3 separate regions of the Homo sapiens genome follow, and all the other regions are reported to be linked to region 2. Evidence: microRNA targets listed by miRTarBase, many of them from high-throughput screens and not tested one by one. Region 2 holds a microRNA gene; each other region holds the end of a gene's coding sequence.

Region 1 (7,201 bases), not on the chromosome of region 2:
AAGTGTTTGCCTAGGCACTAGACAATGTTCCTGGTTTGCAGGTTGCACAAACCGGACCTGGAACAGCTCAGCTGTTCCCTTGATTGGTCTGCCCAATACCCAAGACTACAAATGGGTAGATCGAAATTCTGGATTGACCTGGTCAGGTAATGACACCTGTCTCTATAGCTGCCAAAACCAAACCAAAGGCCTTCTGTACCAGCTATTTCGCAACCTATTTTGCTCTTATGGCCTGACAGAGGCACATGGGAAATGGAGATGTGCAGATGCCAGCATAACTAATGACAAAGGTCATGATGGACACCGGACCCCCACCTGGTGGCTCACAGGTTCCAATCTGACCTTGTCTGTGAACAACTCTGGCCTCTTTTTTTTGTGCGGCAATGGGGTGTACAAAGGGTTTCCACCTAAATGGTCTGGGCGATGTGGACTTGGGTATCTTGTACCTTCCCTCACCAGATACCTCACCTTAAATGCTAGCCAAATTACAAACCTGAGATCCTTCATTCATAAAGTAACACCGCATAGATGCACCCAAGGAGACACAGACAATCCACCTCTGTATTGCAACCCCAAGGACAATTCAACAATAAGGGCCCTTTTTCCAAGTTTGGGAACTTATGATTTAGAAAAGGCAATTCTAAACATTTCCAAAGCAATGGAACAGGAATTCAGTGCCACTAAGCAGACCTTGGAAGCACACCAATCAAAAGTTAGCAGTTTAGCCTCTGCATCCCGAAAGGATCATGTCTTGGATATACCGACCACCCAACGACAAACGGCTTGTGGAACTGTTGGCAAACAGTGTTGCCTCTATATAAATTATTCGGAAGAAATAAAGTCTAATATACAGCGTCTCCACGAAGCATCCGAGAACCTGAAGAATGTACCGTTACTTGATTGGCAAGGCATATTTGCAAAAGTGGGAGACTGGTTCAGATCATGGGGCTATGTGCTTTTAATTGTTCTTTTCTGCTTATTCATCTTTGTTTTAATCTATGTTCGTGTCTTTCGCAAATCTCGCAGATCCCTTAACTCCCAACCTCTGAACCTAGCCTTATCTCCACAGCAATCAGCACAGCTCCTTGTCAGTGAAACTTCATGTCAAGTTTCAAATAGGGCAATGAAGGGACTAACAACCCATCAATATGACACAAGTCTACTTTGAGAATATCTGAACAAACAGCAGCTGCAGACAAAAAGCCTTAGCTAAACTTTGATGAGTAAAGCAGGTCTTACCGAGAATTCAGCTGCCAAAACCCTCCTCTGAGTGTTCCTCTTATAAGGGCACTTAGCACTAGGACCTCCCAAGGTATTGTAAATAAGCCTTATCAGAACTTTTTGTAGTTTCATTCTGAAGCCTTAAGACACACACCATAAAGCTGATCTGTAAACCCTTACCCCTTGCTGTTCAGAGAGCTACTCTTTGTAGTGTTCTTGCATGCATATATAATAAATGTTTTTTCTATTGATCTGTTAATTTGCAAGCCCCCAAACACTGGAACTAAGTTGGGGGCAGGATAGTTTCTCCCAACAGCACTTTGTAGGCTTCTGGATAGACCAAAGAGTGTGTTTGAATAGATAAGGGAATTTTGTTCCCTTGATTTTGGTTGAAGGTAGAAGAATCCAATGTACACATACACAAAACTATGTCCTTAAATTTGTCTCAAAGAATAAATATTGGGTAGTCATCAGAATTGACTGAAAACTTACTTTAGGGAGAAAGCCACAAATAATTTAGGCTGGTATGATCTGAGCTTTCCTGATTTCCCATGGGCATTTTAGTGGTCTAATGGAATATTAGTCTGATATGCATTTTAGCCATCTTATGAAATGGGCCGCAGGTGGAAGTAGGATGCAGGGAGTGTTGAGGTGGCATCTATTATATCAAATGCTTCACTCTGCCCAGTCCTCTGGTGAGTTCCTTACATGCATCTTTCTAGTTAATCCTCTCGGTGTTCATATTTTACAGATTAATCAACTCAAAGGGTAGATAGCTTGCTAAAGATTATACTATTACTGAAAAATAGCAAGATGCAGAACAGCATACCTAGTATGTTACTCTTTTTTTTTTTTTTTTGAGGCAGAGTCTGGCCCTTTCACCCAGGCTGGAGTGCAGTGGCTCAATCTCGGCTCACTGCAACCTCTGCCCCCTTGGGTTCATGCCATTCTCCTGCCTCCCTCCTGAGTAGCTGGGACTACAGGCGCCTGCCACCACGCCTGACTAATTTTTTGTGTTTTTAGTAGAGACGGGGTTTCACCGTGTTAGCCAGGATGGTCTCAGTCTCCTGACCTCATGACCCGCCCACCTCAACCTCCCAAAGTCCTAGGATTATAGGTGTGAGCCACTGCACCCAGCCTCGTATGTTACTTTTTATTTTAAAAAAGGGGAAATGATATGTATATGTGTATGTATTTGCAAATAAAACAGGAAAAGCCATTCACAATTGAAAGTGATTCACATGTAAGAGGAATGGACTGTGAGATTCTCACCTCCTTTTTAAGGTTGCACATAAACAAATTTATGAACATAGCAGATTGATAATTTATTAACAGAATAATCATTTCAAGTTACATTAAGAAAACATGGATGGCTGGGCACGGTGGCTCACGCCTGTAATCCCAGCACTTTGGGAGGCCAAGGTGGGCAGATCACGAGGTCAAGAGATCAAGACCATCCTGGCCAACATGGTGAAACCCCATCTCTACCAAAAGTACAAAAATTAGCTGGGCATGGTGGCAGGCACCTGTAGTCCCAGCCACTCAGGAGGCTGAGGCAGGAGGATCGCTTGAACCCAGGAAGCGGAGGTTGCGGTGAGCTGAGATCGCACCACTGTATTCCAGCCTGGCAACAGAGTGAGATTCTGTGGCAAAAAAAAAAAAAAAAAAAAAAAAAAGCACAGACTGGGTGTGGTGGCTCATGCCTGTAATTCCAGCACTTTGCGAGGCTGAGGCAGGTGGATCGCTTGAGCCCAGAAGTTGGAAATCAGCCTGGGCAACCTGGTGAAACCCTGTCTCTACAAAAAATTAGCCAGGTGTGGTGGCATGTGCCTATAGTCCGAGCTACCCAGGAGGCTGAGGTGGGAGCATCACTTGAGGCTGGGAGGTCGAGGCTGCTGTGAGCCAAGATTGTGCCACTGCACTCCAGCCTGGGTGATGGGGTGAGCTTCTGTCTCAAAAAGATAAAGAAAAGAAAACTCATACTCTGGAACAATAGAACCCTTATAGATGGGTTTGTTGTTCATAGTAATGTTGATATCAAAAGAAGGTAGGCTGGGTGCAGTGGCTTATGCCTGTAATCCCAGCACTATGGGAAGCCAAGGCAGGCAGATGACCTGAGGTCAGGAGTTGGAGACCAGCCTGACCAACGAGGAGAAACCCCATCTCTACTAAAAAAAAAAAAAAAAAAAAAATACAAAATTAGCCAGGCCTGGTGGTGCATGTCTGTAATCCCAGCTACTCGGGAGGCTGAGGCAAGAGAATCACTTGAACCCACTAGGCGGAGATTGTGGTGAGCCAAGATCATGCCATTGCACTCCAGCCTAGGCAACAAGAGCGAAACTCTGTTTCAAAAAAAAACCCCAAAAAGCACAAAACACACACACACACACACACAAAAGAAGGTAATAAAAACTTTCAGCAATATAGGACACAAGAGAAAGCCTCCTTGAGCTGAAAGATATAGGACTTCCTGTGTTTGTTATGCAATATGCATTGAAACTAGAGAAGCCATTAAAAGAAATGCAACTTTCAGTATTGGGTATTTGTGGTACTTGGTTTTCTTTCTTTCTTTCTTTCTTTCTTTCTTTCTTTCTTTCTTTCTTTCTTTCTTTCTTTCTTTCCTTTCCTTTCCTTTCTTTCTCTCTCTCTCTCTTTCTTTCTTTCCTTACTTTCTTTCTTTCTCTCTCTCTTTCTCTCTTTCTCTCATTCCTTCTTTCTTTCTTTCCTTTTTTTTTGACGGAGTTTCACTCATGTTGCCCAGGCTGGAGTGCAGTGGCACAATCTCAGCTCATCGCAACCTCTGCCTGCTGGGTTCAAGTGATCCTCCTGCCTCAGCCTCCTGAGTAGCAGGGATTACAGGCACGCACCACCATGCCCACCTAATTTTTTGTATTTTTAGTACAGACAGGGTTTCTCCATGCTGGTCAGGCTGGTCTCGAACTCCCAACCTCAGGTGATCCGCCCGCCTTGGCCTCCCAAAGTGCTGGGATTACAGGTGTGAGCCACCGCACCTGGCCTGGTCCTCATTTCACAATGTCAAGTACGAATACAAAGTGAAGAGGAAATATGAAATAAAGGGGCAGTCATTGGAATGTTAGAAAATGTCTTATTAAAAGGATAAAGTTTCATCAAATAGCATGACTGATTATGAGGTGTGTTAAGCTGCACAATATTTGATTAAAGTAAGGTTTGTAGGGCATGACAAGTTATAGAAAATAGTTTCAACATTACTGGTGATGGACACAAAGGTATTTCTGATTTTCAAAACTCATAGGGGAAAAAAATCCTCTTTCCATTGTTATGCATCAGAAGGAACACAAAATAGGTTGGTTGGCAAAAACATTTATTAGCCAGCTCAAAGGTTCACCAGATGTTTCACCTTCCTATTTCCTGATACATTTATTAATTAGAAGCTTACTTAAGGAAAATTGTTATCCAATATTTTTTATCAGTGTGGACTCATGGATATATACATTGTTCTTTGGGTTGTAATCCAGTACTATCATACTGTTGCTCAAAGTGTTGCAGCTTTGGCCTTTGAGAGCTCTTGGAAAATTTGTTCCTGTTTCCTTTTGACATGCCTCTCCCTATGTGTTTTTTGTTTGTTTGGCCTTATTTTTTTTTTTTCAGCACTTCCTTACTCTCCAGCGCTCCAATATGCTGCAAGCTCATCTTTTATTTTTCCTGCCCAGCCCTAGAATCAGTGATTTTTTTTTCCCAAGAAACCATTGTTCCCTGTACTGAAAAATGGTTTTAGAAACCAAGATCTGGGCACAAGATGTGCTCATTGCTACTGCTACTAGGTTATCACTGTGTAGGCCCCCTCAGTGGACACAGCTAGGAAATGTTTGTATGTATACACAGATACCTATACATATATACCTACAGTTTATTGAAATAAACGAGTTTATACTGATATCTCCAACTCTCAGCACCACAGGATTCATTCTAGCCTCACCTTACCCCTTGCTTATTTGTAACTTTTCTGTTGCTGAGAAACCTGTCTCCTATTAGCTAAGATTTATTTGCTTATTTGTTAAACTCTACTATATGTGTAAACTAGTTACATAACATAGTTACATAATTGCTAACCTGTCCCTTTATGAGAAACAAAGTAACCAATTAGAATACAGCGTTTGCTTTTTTGTCTTTGGCTTTGCAGTATTCAGTCAAGACATCGTTTTCAAAAGTTAAATCGTCTCCTCAATTTATATATAGGTATATACACATATGTGTATATATATTCACTTCTTTAAAAGTTAACCCATCATTATTGGCATCTAGAGAATCTACATACAAAGTACAAGCAACAAGAAAATGCTAAATTCACTTAAATCATGAAAAGTAATTGGGCTAGGCTCCTCATACAATTCTAATGATAGTTACACAGATGGACTACTGAAGAACAAATACTTTTTATTCTTTTGATTGTTATCTATGACTTTATACAAGATATATGTTTTTTAATTTCTCCACAGAAAGCTTCAGAAGATGAGTATTTAAATGTAGCCATCTTAACCAGCAATCAGTACTACCACAAGGAATATTTCAGGGGTGGCAACAACCCTGTGATAATCCTGCAGCATGGGTCGATTTGCTTTCAAAACCTAGAGGTGTACAAAGTCAAAGGTGAAGAAAATGTGCATTTGCTGTTAAGAAAATATTATGATATACAGTAATTACAACTGTGAGGGAATATATGCAATAAAAATAATTGTTTGGGAGGAAATGTGGATGATTTTTTTTTCTGTTTTCCAAACGAAAGCCTTAGGACATAACACTTTTTGAGTGAGATCTTTGTGGTGACATAATAATTCTATATCTGAGTTGTGATGGTTCCATGAATTTACACATGACAAAATGACACAGAATGATGTAATATTGGCACACACAGCTCAATGTCAATTTTCTAGTTTTGTTTTTGTGCTATAGTGACTTCCACTTGGGAGAATTTGGGTGAAGGCTACGTGGAATCTCTCTGCACTGTTTTTTTTTAAATATATAATTCAGAGTAAAAAGCTTTAAAAAGTAATAGTATTTTACATCCTCAAATTAAACAGATGTGTAAATATATACATATATAGTTTATGTATGTTAAACCTAGTTGCCTTTTTTAATGAGTTTTTTTTCTGTATTAAACTATCCTTCAGAAAGGTTGAAGCAAATGTACCATGTATAATAGGATATTTAAAATTTCATTTTCATTGGCAGAGTAATTTCACAGGAAATGTATCTTAAGGAAATACTCTGCCCTTTCATACCTTCTGTCTTCCTAATAATTTCTACAAAGATATTCAAAAAACCCTTTTGCCAAATAAATGGTCTATAAACTTCTTAACACATCGTGCAGTGCCAGTCTTAATGGTTGGCCACTCCCTCTTTCCAAACACCTTCCCTGAATCACAGTGTGATGCTTAATTTTTGTGTCAACTTTACTGGGCTACAGAGCACCTAGATATTTGATTAAACAGTATTCTGAGTGTTTCTGTAGAAGTGTTTTGGGACGAAATTAACACTTAAATGGGAATACCGAGTAAAGCAGATTTATCTGCCTAATGTGAGTGGGCCTTATCCAATCAGCTGAAGGCCTAAAGAGAATAAGAGGGCTGACCCTCCCCTGAGGAAGAGAATTCTTCCTGCTTGACTGCCTGTGAATTTGACCTTTCCCCCTTGCCTTCAGCTCTTTCTGGGTCTCAAGCCTACCAGCCCTTAAACAGGAACTACACAATTGGCTCTCTTGAGTCTCCAGCAATGATTCCCAAATCTGTATCTCAAACCTGGATTTCACTACTCAACTCCAAACTCATGTCTCTTTGTACTTATCTGTCATCTCCCCTTGGATGCTGAAGAGGCATCTCAACCTTAGCATGAACAAACTTCACTTTCAGCTCCCTCCCCCAGACTTATTCTTCAGTTTTCCTTATCTCAATGAATAATGACACTATTCCACCCAGTTGCTCATGCCAAAACTCAGGTGGTC
Region 2 (7,201 bases):
GAGGTTACTTAAGACAATTCTGTTCCTATATAAAATTGAAGCATTCTGTGTTTTAGTAGGGAGGGCTTTATCTGTTGGACATCATAATTTTTATACTTTGCCTGGTTCTGTTAGTGATAGAAATGCATTCCTTTAGTGATTTTTAACTGTAGTGTTTGAATTATCTTTCATGTAGTCTGAAGCATTTTAGAAGACTGCAGAAAACATAATTGTTTATTGCAATAGTCCAGTTGAAATCTAATAGCTACTATAATGCAGTGTCCCCTAAAACCCAAGATCCAGGCTGAAGAGCGCCATCTACTGCTCCTCTTGGGCACTGCTGGGAAGCATTGAAGAAGAGGAGGATGTTCAGGAAAGGCCCAACCAGCCTCTTGTGCAGGGTTTGGAGTCATTCAGCTCAGTGGTTGCCTGTTATTTGCTAGGAGACATTTTATAAAGAATCATTGAGGTTTTATTTCTATTTTGGCCCCATTCAGCACGTGAGCCAGTTGAGCATGTTGGCAATACACAAGTACTTACAGCTACTTGTCTCCCAGGGAGGGAGGCTTTAAAAACTACAAGCAAACTGGTGATTTCAGTGGAATTTGATTAGTGCCAAATTTAACTTATTTGTGAGTTTTAGGAGTAAAAACAAATTACAGTACATTTTCATCGTCCCAAAAAACCCATTCACAGGGCACCCAGCCACCCTAGCCCTGAATAATTAAGATGTCCAATGGATGAAGCCCCTGCTAGTAAAACATAGAGTGCTTCAGTTTTATATAGAAACATACTCGTTTTAAGTAACCCCAACTTAGAATTAGGCAAGCTCCCTTAAGTAACTACGAGTTTATAATAGTCACTACATGCAGAAATCTACTTCCATCTTTATAGATTCGCCTATTCTGGATACTTCATGTTAATTGTCGTACAATAAGTTGCCTTTTGTGACTGACTTCTTTCACTTGTCATAACATATTTGAGGTTCATCAGTGTCCTAGCCTGTATCAGAACTTTATTCCTCTTTACTGCCAAGTAATAGAATTTTTCTAACTTTTTATCAGTTAAAATTGCCTAACTAGGAAAAGTCTGGGTTTTAATAGCACCTTAAAGTAGACTGTGATTTCTGGTCTGTCTTATTGGAAAAGGATATGTCAGAGTATGGTTTTCTGAGGTTGATGCTCTTCTTCTCTTTCTTAAGAGCCCTAGGAAGGGTAGCTGGCTCATTGAGCTATCTGCCTATTATAAGAGCAGTCTGTGACTCATGAAATCTCAGGAGATTTTGTAAAGCAGTTCACTGTGGGCCAGGTAAATGTTTTATTCCCAGAGGCGGGCTCTTGGTTCAGCATTAAGAAGGTAGCAGATTTCACTATTGGGTAGCAGAATTAGTGTAGTACCTATAGATTTAAGTTACGAATATTGATTTATTTTCACTAAGAGTACACATTAATTCTTTTTTGTTTTTTGGAAATGGGGTCTTGCTCTGTCACCCAAGCTGGAGTGCTGGAGTGCAGTGGCACAATCATAGCTTTCTGCAACTTCAGCCTTCTGGGTTCAAGGGATCCTTCCACCTCAGCCTCCTGAGTAGCTGCGACTACAGGCATGTGCTACCATGCCTGGCTAATTTGTAAAAACTTTTTTGTAAAGATGGGGTCTTGCTATGTTGCTCAGGCTGGTCTTGAACTCCTGGGCTCAAGTGATCCTCCTGCCTCAGCCTCTCAAAGTGCTGGGATTGCAGAGTGAGCCTCCATGCCTGACCCCTGTTAGTCATTTTTTTGGGTAACTTTACAGGGATCTCCGTGATGTTATGGTAATTGAGAAAGACACACAGGTTTTGTTGTTTGTTCTTGTTGGTTGTGTAAGATTTCTACCCTCTTTAATACTGAGAGGACTTGAAGCTGACCCAACACTTACCTAGAATTAGACTGTTCATTAAGGCACTTAAAATCTATTTTGTGTGAGTACAGAGAGCATCTGAATGGGTACAGTTGTTGTCTCTTGTTCCTCACACAGGCACCAGAGCAATGGAGCTGTCATTGCCCGCTGTGGACAGCCAGAGGTTAGCTGGTGGGGCTGGCGAAATGCAGATGATGAGCATCTGGTACAGTCAGTAGCCAAAGCTTGTGCCTCTGACTCCCGATCGAGTGGCAGCAAGCTGTCAACTAGGAACACTTCTCGAGACTTTCCCAATGGGGGAGACCTTTCTGACGTGGAGTTCGGTAAGGTGCTCCCTGGACCCATGGCAATGATTTTTATAGCATCTAAGAACCTTTTCTTGAAATGGCCTCTTCCTTACAAGACATAGATTTACTTTTATAGAAGTGAATGTGCAGAGCTTCACTTGATGGGATTGATTGAGGAGTCATGGGTCTTGGCAGAGAATCAGAAGACCCTTTGTTTCAAACCTGAATCAAGATATTAGTGTGTTTGTTGTCTTTCTTGCCATTGTGACAAAAATGGAGTGTTTATGTAATAGAGGACTTGCAGTATCTGCAGACCATGGCAGGAAATGCCAGGCTTCATGAAAGGACAACAGATACAGAAATGAAGTATAAGAGACTGGGCTGTGTGAACCCCATGTGTACTCTGGGAGTCAGTTTTGGAGAATAAATCCTTCTCATCTTTCATAAGAAGGCCACATAGAAAAAAAGAGAAAAATCCTATGTATCAAGGGTTTTGGTTAGGGGATTTCATTTTATTGAGCCTTTTTTGTGCCATAAGATGTGCTTGTGGGTCTAATTCTGCACAGTTCTGGGAGAGACAGGCTCATTTAGTATGCCCTCTCCCTCTGTGTCCCTAGATTCTTCTCTGTCAAATGCTTCAGGAGCAGAGAGTTTAGCCATCCAACCGCAGAAGCTTTTGATCTTGGATGCACGCTCCTATGCAGCTGCTGTGGCAAACCGAGCCAAAGGAGGAGGCTGCGAATGCCCAGGTGAGGTGTATGGTGCTTTGTTCCCCATACTTTCTCCTTGTGAGTGTAGCCCTTGCCCAACTGAGACTTAGTTCCCAATTTGAAATAAGTGGCAAGCCATATTCCTCATCCATCCTGTCGTGAGAGTGCCAGAGCTTCTCTTTGGATTCTTAACACTGTATGTTCTTTTCTGAGGAGAAATGGAGGAGGAGGTGCAGTGAAGTCACATAATCTTCCTTCCTTGTGCCAACTTGTAGGTGATAAGGAAAGCAGATCTTCCCCATAATAAGACCTGTTCATGTTTGGAAGCTGCTGCTTTAGTGGGCTCAATTTCTCAGCCGTCTAAAAGCTTTTTGTTGCCTTTGACAGAGGGTATGCTCACCACTGGCCTTGTAGCAAACTCCTCAAGGGCCTCTCCTTAGAAAACCTGGGGTGAAAATTGAAGCAGTAAATACAGAACCCTAGTAAGGTATCTCTGTCCTGAGCTGTAACACCATTACTGTTGGAATGCTAGCTTTCCCCAAGGAGGGACCCCCCTCAGTGCCTATGGCACAGGCAGAGGCACCAGGCTCTTTGTTCAGATGTGGTCTAAGCTGGAAATTGAAAGCAGCTGTACCAAGGTGAAATTTGAATGTGTGAACGCATTGTTCTGTGGAGTTCTTTTCAAAGAGATTTCAAAGCCACAAGTTAGATAAGGCCCAAGAAGTAAAGCCAGAGTGAGATCGAAGTAGGCCTTTCTTTTAAAAAATAATAGCTTTTATTTTATGTCAGTATCTTCTTTACAAATCTAACCTTCCCTTTTCACGCTTTTTGAAAAGATAGCTAAAATTCAGTGTGTTCCTCTTATTATAAAGGATTGGGCTAATAGTTAAGCATTTCAAAACATTTCAGTTTCGTTAATCAGAAGCTGCAGTGGGTTTGTTTTATAGCCAGTTTGCTTTTAAATTTGGCCATGTGGGCTTTAAGTTCAACGTATTTGTGTTCTCTTTATTGTTACTCTCTCCAGAGTATTACCCAAACTGTGAAGTTGTGTTTATGGGGATGGCAAACATTCATTCTATTCGGAGGAGTTTTCAGTCTCTGCGGTTGCTGTGCACTCAGATGCCAGATCCGGGAAAGTAAGTCCTTGGCCTTGGCTTTCATTTTGCATTGCTCTTAAATAATAAGTTTGCTTCTTTCCTTGAACTAAGGGGGAAAAAAAGAAAAAAAAATTAATTTGGAGCAGTCTTTCCTTCTGTTTCTTGGTAATCTTCAGTTACCAGACCAGTCTCTGCAAGTATCTCCTTGCTGGGTCTGAAATGTGGCAGCACAGAGGAAGAGTTGGGAGAAAATACAGCCATTTGAAAGGTTTTAAAATCTGCAGCACAGAAGAAATCTCAGCATCAAAACAGAAGCATTACCTTACTGTTTGTCCTGGGACCTTTCCCTTCCACGTCATTTTTAGCCCAAAGAAATTTAATTCTTCAGTTTCTGATGTCCCATAGTGATACATAACCTGTTTTGAACTGGGATGTTTTATCATGAAAAGTCAGAATTTATTCATCATGTTCTAAAGGGTTTAAACTTGCCATTAAGTCAGTTCCTTTTACATCTGCTTTCAATTTCTAAACTGTTCTCATTTACTAAGCATATTATCCTGATTCTTATTGCTTATTAAATATGAATGGCTGGCATTTGCAGTGAGGAAGGTGAACTAATACCCCCTCCAAGGGTACTGATTGAATACAAGATAAATTAGGAAGAATGCTCTGTAAAACAAATATGGACAGATAAGTATTTAAAAATCCTGTTTTACTATTTCAGGAAGCCAGAGATAGGTGCCAGAGAAGACAGAATTTTCTTTTTTCTGGTATTTGTGCTGGAGCCCATAGTTGTTTCTCTGGGTCCTATTCAGTAGATCTGATGATCACATCAAGTTTTACTGCGTTCTTTATTTGATTTATTAAATCAGATGCTGCCTAAACCACTTATATTGACTGCCAGTAGCAAATGATTAAATTCACCGTAGTTGTCATCAGCCAAGAGGATGAAGCAGTGCCTTTGGGGAAAGCCTGACCGGAGAATTGAGCTTGCTGCCTCCTTTGGGGATTAGCCATTTGCATTTGCTACACAGTTCCAGGTCCCAGCTAGCAGCGCTTTCTTCCCTAGGGTGGTATGTAGAAGGAGCCTTACTAAGGACCCAGGAGATCGGCCGCGAACTGTGTAACCTTGGCCAAGGGGTTTAACTACTGTAGATCTCAGTTTTCCTGTCTATAAAATGAAAGACATGTAATCAACACTACATGATCTAATACCCTCCATATATTAAAATTCTTAAAGAGCTATCAGAGTCAAAAAAGATAGAATTAGCCCTCACCTGGTCCACATAAATGTCTTGGGGATTTTATTAAAGGTAATGCTTTTATGTATTTGGCAGCAAATCATAATGCTGCACTGAAGTCTCCCTCATGGGTAAAAAGCAGCTGTAGCAGTGATGGGCAGCTGTAATTAGGCCCCCGGCCTGTGTTTGGGGCTGTGGAGGATAGGGGAATGGTAGGCTTCTAGTGCAGGTTGAGAACAGGACAAGGGAATGGGGAGTCTCTCAGCAGCCCCTCCTTGGCTGGCAGGTTTTGGAGTACAGCTTCATTAGTCACAGACAACACCAACTGGTATTAAATAATAGTTTAGTTAGGTTCAAAAGAACCTCACACCGGTTCTCTTGTTTACCATTTCTTCAGGTGCTAGGAGATAATTTAGTATTTGTTCTCCTAAGCCTTATCTTTTAGTTCCTTTCAAGAATATGTGAGGAATGAAATAAACAATTGATCCATCAGGAAAAAATGTTTCTCAGGTACCTGCTAGGAGATAGAAAGTCTTACGATTGGATTTTTACCCATAACAGACTTACAATTCATTAAACAGTGGGACTCCCTACTGTATGCTAGGCACTGTGCTGGGGGTACAGTTATGACTGAGACATAGTGTTAGCCCTCTGAGGAGTCACAGTCTGGTTGGTAGTCCAAACAAATCCATATACAACCAGTACTTATGCACTGCATTCTGTTGTCTCTTTGCCTGGAAAGACCCCCACCTCCTTAGACTATGCCAAAATTTCATACTTATTCCACAGGGTTTAGTAGGCCTTTACAGCCTTCCCACAGTCCCCTGACAGAAATGTTTATTTCTTCCTCTGACTCAGTGTTTGAAAGACTTGACTTGTGATCTTAACTACAAATCTGATCACATTTGGGAAAAATCAACTCCTTTTTAGGGATTGGGAGGGGTGAGGGAAAGCACAAGAAACAAAATGCAACAGAGTTTAAAAAGCAAGTGTGATTAGCTTGTGATTACTCCCAAGGGGCAGCTACTGCTATCTGATACTCCGAAAGTGAGATGGAGTCTCTCTCTCTCATCCATGCTGGAGTGCGGTGGCCTGATCTCAGCTCACTGCAACCTCCACCTCCCGGGTTCAAGTGATTCTCCTGCCTCAGCCTCCTGAGTAGCTGGGATTACAGGCGTGTGCCACTATGCCCAGCTAATTTTTGAATTTTTAGTAGAGATGGGGTTTCACCATGTTGGCCAGGCTGGTCTGGAACTCCTGACCTCAAGTGATCCACCCACCTCAGCCTCCGAAAGTGCTGGGATTACAGGCATGAGCCACTGCGCCCGGCCTCTAAAAGTCTTTCAAAAAAAGGTTCTTCCTAGATCGCTGCTGAATCCAGTCTGTGTTGAGCCCAGCAATACTGTGTGGCCATTGGTATACTAATTTGTATCAGTATAAATTATCAGATTGGGCTCATCTTGTTTTAGTCAGTAAACATTAAAGAATTAAACAGTGGTAAGTGTTACAGTCTGGGTCATAGGCAGGGTTGTGTGTACCATTCTTGTATATGGCATCCAGCTTATGTCTCATAGATATATTTGTATTCATGAGTTTTTCTTTTCTTTTCTTTTCTTTTTTTTTTGAGAACTTGTTGGGCGTAGTTGCTGATCATTAAATATAAATATCTTCTGTTTTACATCTCAGAAGTGGCTACATTTTTTATTCAGGAGAAGATTCCAGAAAGAGCCACTTTCCTTATACCATGGACTGAAAAATGTCAAATATTTTGCCCGGGGAATCATCCATACAGATTTTGGAACAAAAGGTGTGCTATTAATTGTAGCCCCTATTTCTAAGGCTCTTCTCTATTGTATAGTAGGGCTTGGGCCTCATCCTGAGACATGCTTTATAAACACACAGATTTTTTTGTTTTGGCAGTGTTATATTTGGAGAGAGAAATCTTTGGAAATTGCTTTTTCATTTGACAATCATTGAGCATGATGCAGTAA
Region 3 (7,201 bases), not on the chromosome of region 2:
TCTAAAAGTATTATTTGATGTTAAAGCTTTCTGGTGATTTAAAGTTGTTTCCTGGCAATATCAAAGGATTTTTACATGGGATGGCAATATTACTGTTGATTTATAAAAACCTTTCATTTAACAAATGATATAAGGTTCACAAACTATAACATATACTCTGAATAAACAATATGGCACTTTAACTTTTACACTTACACTGGACTGAGCTCATTGGAGCACACAAATCATGTCCCATTCATCTTTCTATCCCCAAACATCCAGTACAGGTTGCAGCACCTAAATTGAAATAGAATTAAATTGCATGTCAACATTTTTTTTATAAAATAAAAAAAAGAAACCTAAATTTCTTGAAAACATCACTTTTAGGGTTTTACAAAGTCATACATGTTTCTTTTTATTAGCCACTGACCTGTTATTATTTCCATCTCAAGTGTGGGGAAAATGTTCCCTTGCTGTCTCTGATCTTCCTCAGGTATGATATGACCTATCTATAGATACATTGCATGCCTGTGAAATGACAGCAAGAACTGTGATCCGGATAACATTTGGATTGCAGCAGGCAAGAGTATTTTACAGTTGTTATATGGAAATATTGTAGGCATGCAAAAGAATGGAGAGATGAACTTAACTTTTTTATGGAGAAGTTGAACTGTGGCATTTGCCTTGTTTTAAAATTCAGTTGTTTTTATGATCTAAGTTAGCACACCTTTCCCTTCCCTCCAAGGGGATAAATATGGCTTCTGTGGACAATGTTGTAGTCTGTAAACTTAAATACTATGGACCCATGACAGTAGACAATGGGAAAATTCCCCAAACTGCCTAGTCTATCAGTTTCCCTGCTGAGAATGAAAAATAAAGCTAACTCACTCACCATCCAGGTATGCTGAACAAATTCAACAACTAAATGGACTGCGCCAGTGCAAAATACCAGCGTCTTACTTTGCCATCACCAATCTGAAAATCTGTCTTATTTTTCTTATTTGATGATTCCATGGCGGGGTTCGGGGGGGTGGTGGGCAAGCAAGAATGTCTGTGAACTTTAACTTGCTTCAGAGTGCCTCACTTAGCATTTTCATCTATGAACACAGCATGTCATACCAATTGTACTCCACAAAAGATATAGTTACAGTAGCACTTGTATAAAGTAATCCTTGCAACCTATGAAGGAAAGCCATACATTTAAAGGGATCTTGCTGTAGAAATTCTGTGAACTGGTACAGAAATACAGGACAAAGATGTATCCTGAAATATTGAAAAGGAGTAAATGGGGTGCAAGTATACATCACTAAATAATAAACTATTACTATTGCTAGAAAATAGAAATATGGATTATTAAGAGGCTTGAAGCAGAAGGAGGTGGGAGAAAAGGTCTGGTTTTGGATAGGCAGGAGACTTAGAAAAAAGAAGCCTGCAGGACTGACCTATGTCAAAGAATAAAAGGCTAAAGCCTAGCAAAACCTATTCTGCCTTGGGCTGTCAGTACCTACAGTGGGGGCCAGAACCTGTATTATCCTTTCCAGGGAGCAAGGAATAGATTTTAGGGAAAGGCTTTGGAATCAACATCCTAATCCTAGTCACCATAAAAGGATTCCATTTAGTTTACCTTTAGGGTAGAATTGAGAGACAGGCATAGTGACAGCAAAGGTTCCATTCCCCAACCCTTTTGTTAAATTCTTGAAATCCCTTTAAGGAAACAAAGACTTTCATTTCACAGATTTATAACTGTTGGAAGGAAAAGACCGAGTCAAACTTTCAAGTATGAGTTGGGACTCTTTAATCTTTTTTTGGAGGGACAAGAAAATAGGCAGCTGGGTGCGGTGGCTCACGCCTGTAATCCCAACACTTTGGGAGGCCCAGGCGGGCGGGGGAGATGACTTGAGGTCAGGAGTTCAAGACCAACCTGGCCAACATGGTGAAACCCTGTCTCTACTAAAAATACAAAAATTAGCCTGGCATGGTGGCACACGCCTGTAATCCCAGCTACTCAGGAGGCTGAGGCAGGAGAATCGCTTGAACCTGGGAGGCGGAGGTTGCAGTGAGCCGAGATCTTGCCACTGCACTCCAGCCTGAGCACAGCAAGACTCTGTCTCAAAAAAAAAAAAAAAGAAAAAAGAAAAAAAGAAAATAGGCACCTGATACCTGACACTGGGAATGGGATGTTCATTGTGGAGAGGAAAATGGTACAGAAAGACCCAAGACAAACTTCCTTCATGACCTTCACAAAATTGCCTATGTAATTTTGCCCTTTCATTTATTTTCCGGATTGTCATCCCTCCTAAATTATTTCTCAGCTTCCAGTTTCAGCTACTCTAACCTACCTCCCATCTGCCACTGGAATTGTGCACATCCAGCATAATTTGAGCATAGTATCCCATTGCTTAAAACCATTCAATAAATCATTCTTGCTTTCTGAATAGATGCCAAAATACTAGGTCAGTGGGGAAGTCACTGCCTGCCTGTCTCCAATGCAATTCTGTGGCTGCCCTAGGAGCCTTGTTTATACTTTTAAGCCATTGAGTTCTCTTTTCTTGTGCTTGGAACACCCTTCCCTCTGGCTCTTATGACCTTCAAGACTCAGGTGTCATGTTTTTGAGGAAACCTACCCTGACAAAACCATCCCTGACTGTACATAGTAACAAGTATTCCTCACTGCATTATCAGTTGGCTTATTATGTCCTCAAATTGTCAATTTTGAGGGCTGGGTTTTGTCCTTTTCATAGGATTATTAAAGAAATGTCACAAAGTGCTTGCCACTGAGCCATAAAGCTTCTTTTAAAAATGTGACTTCAAATCTTAAAAATTGTTTCCAGACAATTAGCTATTTCTGGTTCTGCAAAGATAAATTTTCAAGAACAGAGATATTCTGGTTCTATTAAGACTTTTTTTTTTTTTAAAAAAAGGTCCATGAATTACTGGAGTTTGCAACTTGGAGAAATATAATCATTCACCTGTGAAAATTCTTGTGAATAATGGCAGCTGTGATCCCCAGTCACTGGAGGCTTGATTATAAAACGTTATCTCAATACTTCTAATTAGCATAGGATATTATAAATAGAATTGGAAAAATTCAGCTATTTTGGACAATCAGGAGTTAAGGAAACTGTTTATTTAATGCCTCCTAACCCCTACTATTTGTTTTTGGTGTGGCAAGCTGTGAGATCACATCGGAACAAACTAAATTTTATTTGGGGAAAGTTAGGTTTGAATTGTAGACAATTACCGTATCAGAAAAATTTCTACTTATGATTTACCGGCTAAATTAAAACAGAAAAGCTTATGTGGGACCTTGCTCTATGGGCATTACACTGACAGAATTAGATAGATGGCATTCCTGTAAGACTGTGCCTCCAAATTGGGATCTCAATCAGTTAATATTTACAACTATTTGGAGCAGGAGACTAAATCTCCAAAGCTGAATTGGAAGTTACTTAAGATCCTAAACAATCAGCTGGGGGAAGGGTTGACAGTAGGGATAGTTTGGATTTTGAGGGGAGGGGATGATGGGAAAGCAGAGGGCAGACACCACAATAATTCTGCATTTTTGAACAATGGACCATGAGTTGAGTATCTTCTCCTGTCGTTACACTGGAAAGCTTATTATTTAAGGCTCTAGATACATACTGCCAAATTACTTTCTAAAAGTACACAGGAAAGCCTGTCTTTCTTTCTATGTTAAGTCCTGCTACTTAGGACACTTATTACAATTCGCCAAAAACATTAATTTGCATTTCTTAGGTTACTAGAGGTTGAACCTTTAGAAACTGCCATTTATCTCTTCTGTGAACTACCCATATTTTCTCTCCTTTTCTACTGTTTTTCTTAATATAAAAGTAGTAATAACTGCTGTTACCATTTTAAACCTTATTATTCATTTCCTTGGAGACTATTACTTTGTTTATGAAGTGTTTTTCCAGCCCCAGAATCAAAATGGAATCTATTTTCACAAAAATCCCATTTCTAAGACTAGTTTTTCTCCACCTGTATTAAATATCACATGTCACAGTTAGCACTGGAGGGGCACAGCCAGCAAACCTTTTCGGTTAACAGTCCAACAGTGAAGTTTCACATTCCATTAAGTATCTCACCTGTAGCAGCTCTACTTGGAATCTTACTACACATCCTTAGGGTTGCTTACTCAAGCCTATGTACTTAGTTCCTTGATTTATAATGTTATTCATTAACATTTTGTTCAATGTCTTGCAGCACAACTAGAATAGAAAATATTTGGCAATCTCATGTACATCCCAATTTTATGCCTTGTTTGTTTGTGGCTAATCTGATTAAATTTTTACTTCAAATAAGTCTTTTAACACGGAGAACTAACTACTGGTTCTCATTAACTCTGATTAGCTAGCTGGCTACAGATGCAGTGCATGTTAATTTCTACAGGCACCTTTCTGAATTCAAGTAAAAGTTTTGGTAGACAAGGATTTCCTACTTAAGTATCACTAACATAATATGAATATTGAGTACAAATATTGCTCACTATTTTTGCATTCTTTAAATTGTTTTACTTTGAAAATTTAAGAACTATCAGTAAGTCATTATTAACAGGTCTTTAAGGAGTATTTTGAACTGTGAAAATACAAATCTAGTCAAATTTTGAACACATATAGAGCCAAATATTTCAACAAAACTGCAGTTTAATTTCAGAAAATGTTAAAATATATATTTATACATCAATTTCTGACATACACTTAATGTGTTAGTATACACAAAATGATGCTTTCTTTTGAAACTGTATTTATGAAATGTACATTTTAATTTAAATACTCAGTATACACTGCACTTAATCTGCATGTTGCATTTATTAAATACATTAAAATCTGCAATGTAACAAAACGTTTTCTGCATACGAAATTCAAAACACCATTTTAAATGAACAAAAGATGGCTCACTTTTTTTTTTTTTTTTTTTTACAACTAGTGTATTGTACACTAGCTCAGCTCCACCAAACTACCTGTTCGTTCTCTTTTATTTGACATTGTTCACAGACTAGTACATATTACAATAAGAGTGCTGGATAAAAACATGAGGTACGAAAGTGGTTCAAAGATTATAGGTCATGCAGATCATGCTAGACAGTAAAGAAAATTGTGACTGAGAAAACACTAAATAAAAATACATAAAGAATGTGCATTATAAAAAAAAAAAAAGACAAAAAAAAAAAAACAACAAAAAAAAACCAAACTCCATTACACAGCTTTGCTTCTTTGGTTACAAAGTAGGTTGAACAATTTCACAGCTTTTTATTCCCACCCGAAAAAAAAGTCATACGAAATGTTGAAAAGCAGAGGAATCGTGGCAATTTCTCTTAGAAAGTAGAAACAAATGAACAAAGTTTTCTTCATCAAAATAGCCCAATTATTTATCATATCACAATAACTGGTGACTACCTGTACAGTTGCACTATGTTCTTCATACTTACACTATACAAAATTTACATTCAAGCTGGGTCTTTACTACTGAAAATAAATACCATAAGTAAATTGCCATTAGTGTTAGAAATATGCCAGGATTCTTTTGTTCAATTATTGCCTAAACGTTTTATCTATTAAATGCAATCCTGTCTTTCACTTCCTTTACTGATACTTATAATTATTCAAAAAAATTAAAAAAGTTCTGTGACATTGTTCATGTACATTATGAAAATAGCAGCCCTGTAATAAATAAAACACAAATAAATGAAAACTTATGTAGGCAAATGTTACTGAATCAGAAAGAAAAGTGGCTCTTTAGATGAACTGTTATTTATAATGTGATAGGAAGGCTCAGGGTAAATCCATGGGTAATAGGAAACATGGGAGAGCCACCAAAACTCTTAAAGACCCCACTCATGCGCACCAGGTAAAATGCAGACTTTGCTCGCTTTAATAAACCCCATCTATTATTCTCCTTGTGTACTGATGACATAGAACTGGACATCAACAGCGCTGCATGACATCTCAGAGAGAGGAAAAGCTCTTGTAGAATGATTGTCTAATACTGAAAAGGCCAAACACACAACCAAAGCATGGCTACTTGCTTTCGTATAAAGTGGAAAGAACACCAGTGGCACACAAGGATAGATTGCTTTCAGTTTTTTTCTTAATGAGGCTTAAGAAAGCTTTATGCTGAGGAGACATTCGGCTGCTGTGGAGGTTGCGTTGGCTGCGGAGGCTGTGCTATCACTGCTTGCTGTTGAGAAGTGCTACCAGGATTGGCCTGTTGGGTTGGGAGTTGGGATAATTGATCATTGCTTGAAAGAGATTTTAACAGTGCATTTTCTCGTTCAAGTAAAGAGTTTCTTTCAACTAATTCTTTTATTTGTTCCTTTAAAACTTCCACTTCTTCTCTTACTGCATACATCAAATGGCTTTTCACCAGATCCTGTGAAAAACAAAATTAGGAATGTCAAAAGAGTGAAAAGATAAAGGTGGTGCTATCTGGTTCTGGCCTACTTGGTGCTAAGTTTTTATACTAGTTTTCCTGCTCTTGCTTTTAATGTTTCTGCTTTATCTTGACCGAGCCTATGGAAGATGGGTTGGAAAAAATCCAGTTCCCAACCAGAGCAGTAAGCCCAGAATTTTCTTTTCAAAGTTTGGGACGATTTCCAAAAAATACTAGCTTCTTAAATTGTCAACTAAGCTTAGAATTAAAAAAAAAAAAAGTTTAAAATCACATGCTTAAAATGGTAGATAAAGAGAACAAAGGAACAATATTCCAACGGAAAGCTGTTTGATGTTAAACTAGTCATAGTACTGCTTTAAAGTGATCTGTAATTTTGGACTTTAAAATTTTGGTATTTTTAAAAAAATAGTTTGAGACTAACAGTCCTGTAAGGTCTCACACCGGTAATCCCAGCACTTTGGGAGGCTGAGGCGTGTAGATCACCTGAGGTCAGGAGTTTGAGACCACCTTGGCCAACATGGTGAAACCCCGTCTCTACTAAGAATACAAAAATTAGCCAGATGTGGTGGTGTGTGCCTGTGCTCCCAACTACTCAGGAGACTGAGGCAGGAGAATCACTTGAACCTGGGAGGTGGAGGTTGCAGTGACCCAAAATCATGCCACTGTACTTCAGCCTGGGTGACAGAGCGAGACTATCTCAAAACAAACAAAAATACCAACTTTTTTTGTAGAGACGGGGTCTTGCTATGTTGCCCAAGTTGGTCTCAAACTCCTGGCCTCAAGTGATCCTCCCACCTCAGCTCAGGTGCTG

The links. Region 2 holds the annotated microRNA hsa-miR-6818-5p (UUGUGUGAGUACAGAGAGCAUC, at 1,933-1,954, shown strand). A microRNA usually pairs through its seed, bases 2 to 8, with sites in the 3' UTR of a target mRNA and lowers its output. Matches are read on the target gene's strand: a 7mer-m8 pairs with bases 2 to 8, a 7mer-A1 pairs with bases 2 to 7 and ends in A, and an 8mer does both.
Region 1: miRTarBase lists ERVMER34-1 as a target of hsa-miR-6818-5p. The part of its 3' UTR that is shown has no 7-base or 8-base seed match.
Region 3: miRTarBase lists TSC22D2 as a target of hsa-miR-6818-5p. The part of its 3' UTR that is shown has no 7-base or 8-base seed match.

The regions. Positions count from the first base shown.
Region 1 is chr4:52,737,796-52,744,996 of GRCh38, reverse strand. It overlaps ERVMER34-1 (endogenous retrovirus group MER34 member 1, envelope), which reads left to right. Exons shown (of 3, transcript NM_001242690.2): 3 at 1-2,444. The coding sequence ends at 1,168. Among named protein-coding and RNA genes, the nearest start is that of ERVMER34-1, 10 kb to the left of the region's middle.
Region 2 is chr22:30,005,122-30,012,322 of GRCh38, forward strand. It overlaps MIR6818 (microRNA 6818), which reads left to right and starts at 1,928; the gene lies at 1,928-1,992. MTMR3 (myotubularin related protein 3) reads left to right here. Exons shown (of 20, transcript NM_021090.4): 10 at 1,993-2,198; 11 at 2,780-2,911; 12 at 3,897-4,008. HORMAD2-AS1 (HORMAD2 and MTMR3 antisense RNA 1) reads right to left here. Exons shown (of 5, transcript NR_110541.2): 5 at 3,625-4,075.
Region 3 is chr3:150,457,544-150,464,744 of GRCh38, reverse strand. TSC22D2 (TSC22 domain family member 2) reads right to left here. Exons shown (of 3, transcript NM_001303264.2): 3 at 1-6,369. The coding sequence ends at 6,109. Among named protein-coding and RNA genes, the nearest start is that of TSC22D2, 53 kb to the right of the region's middle.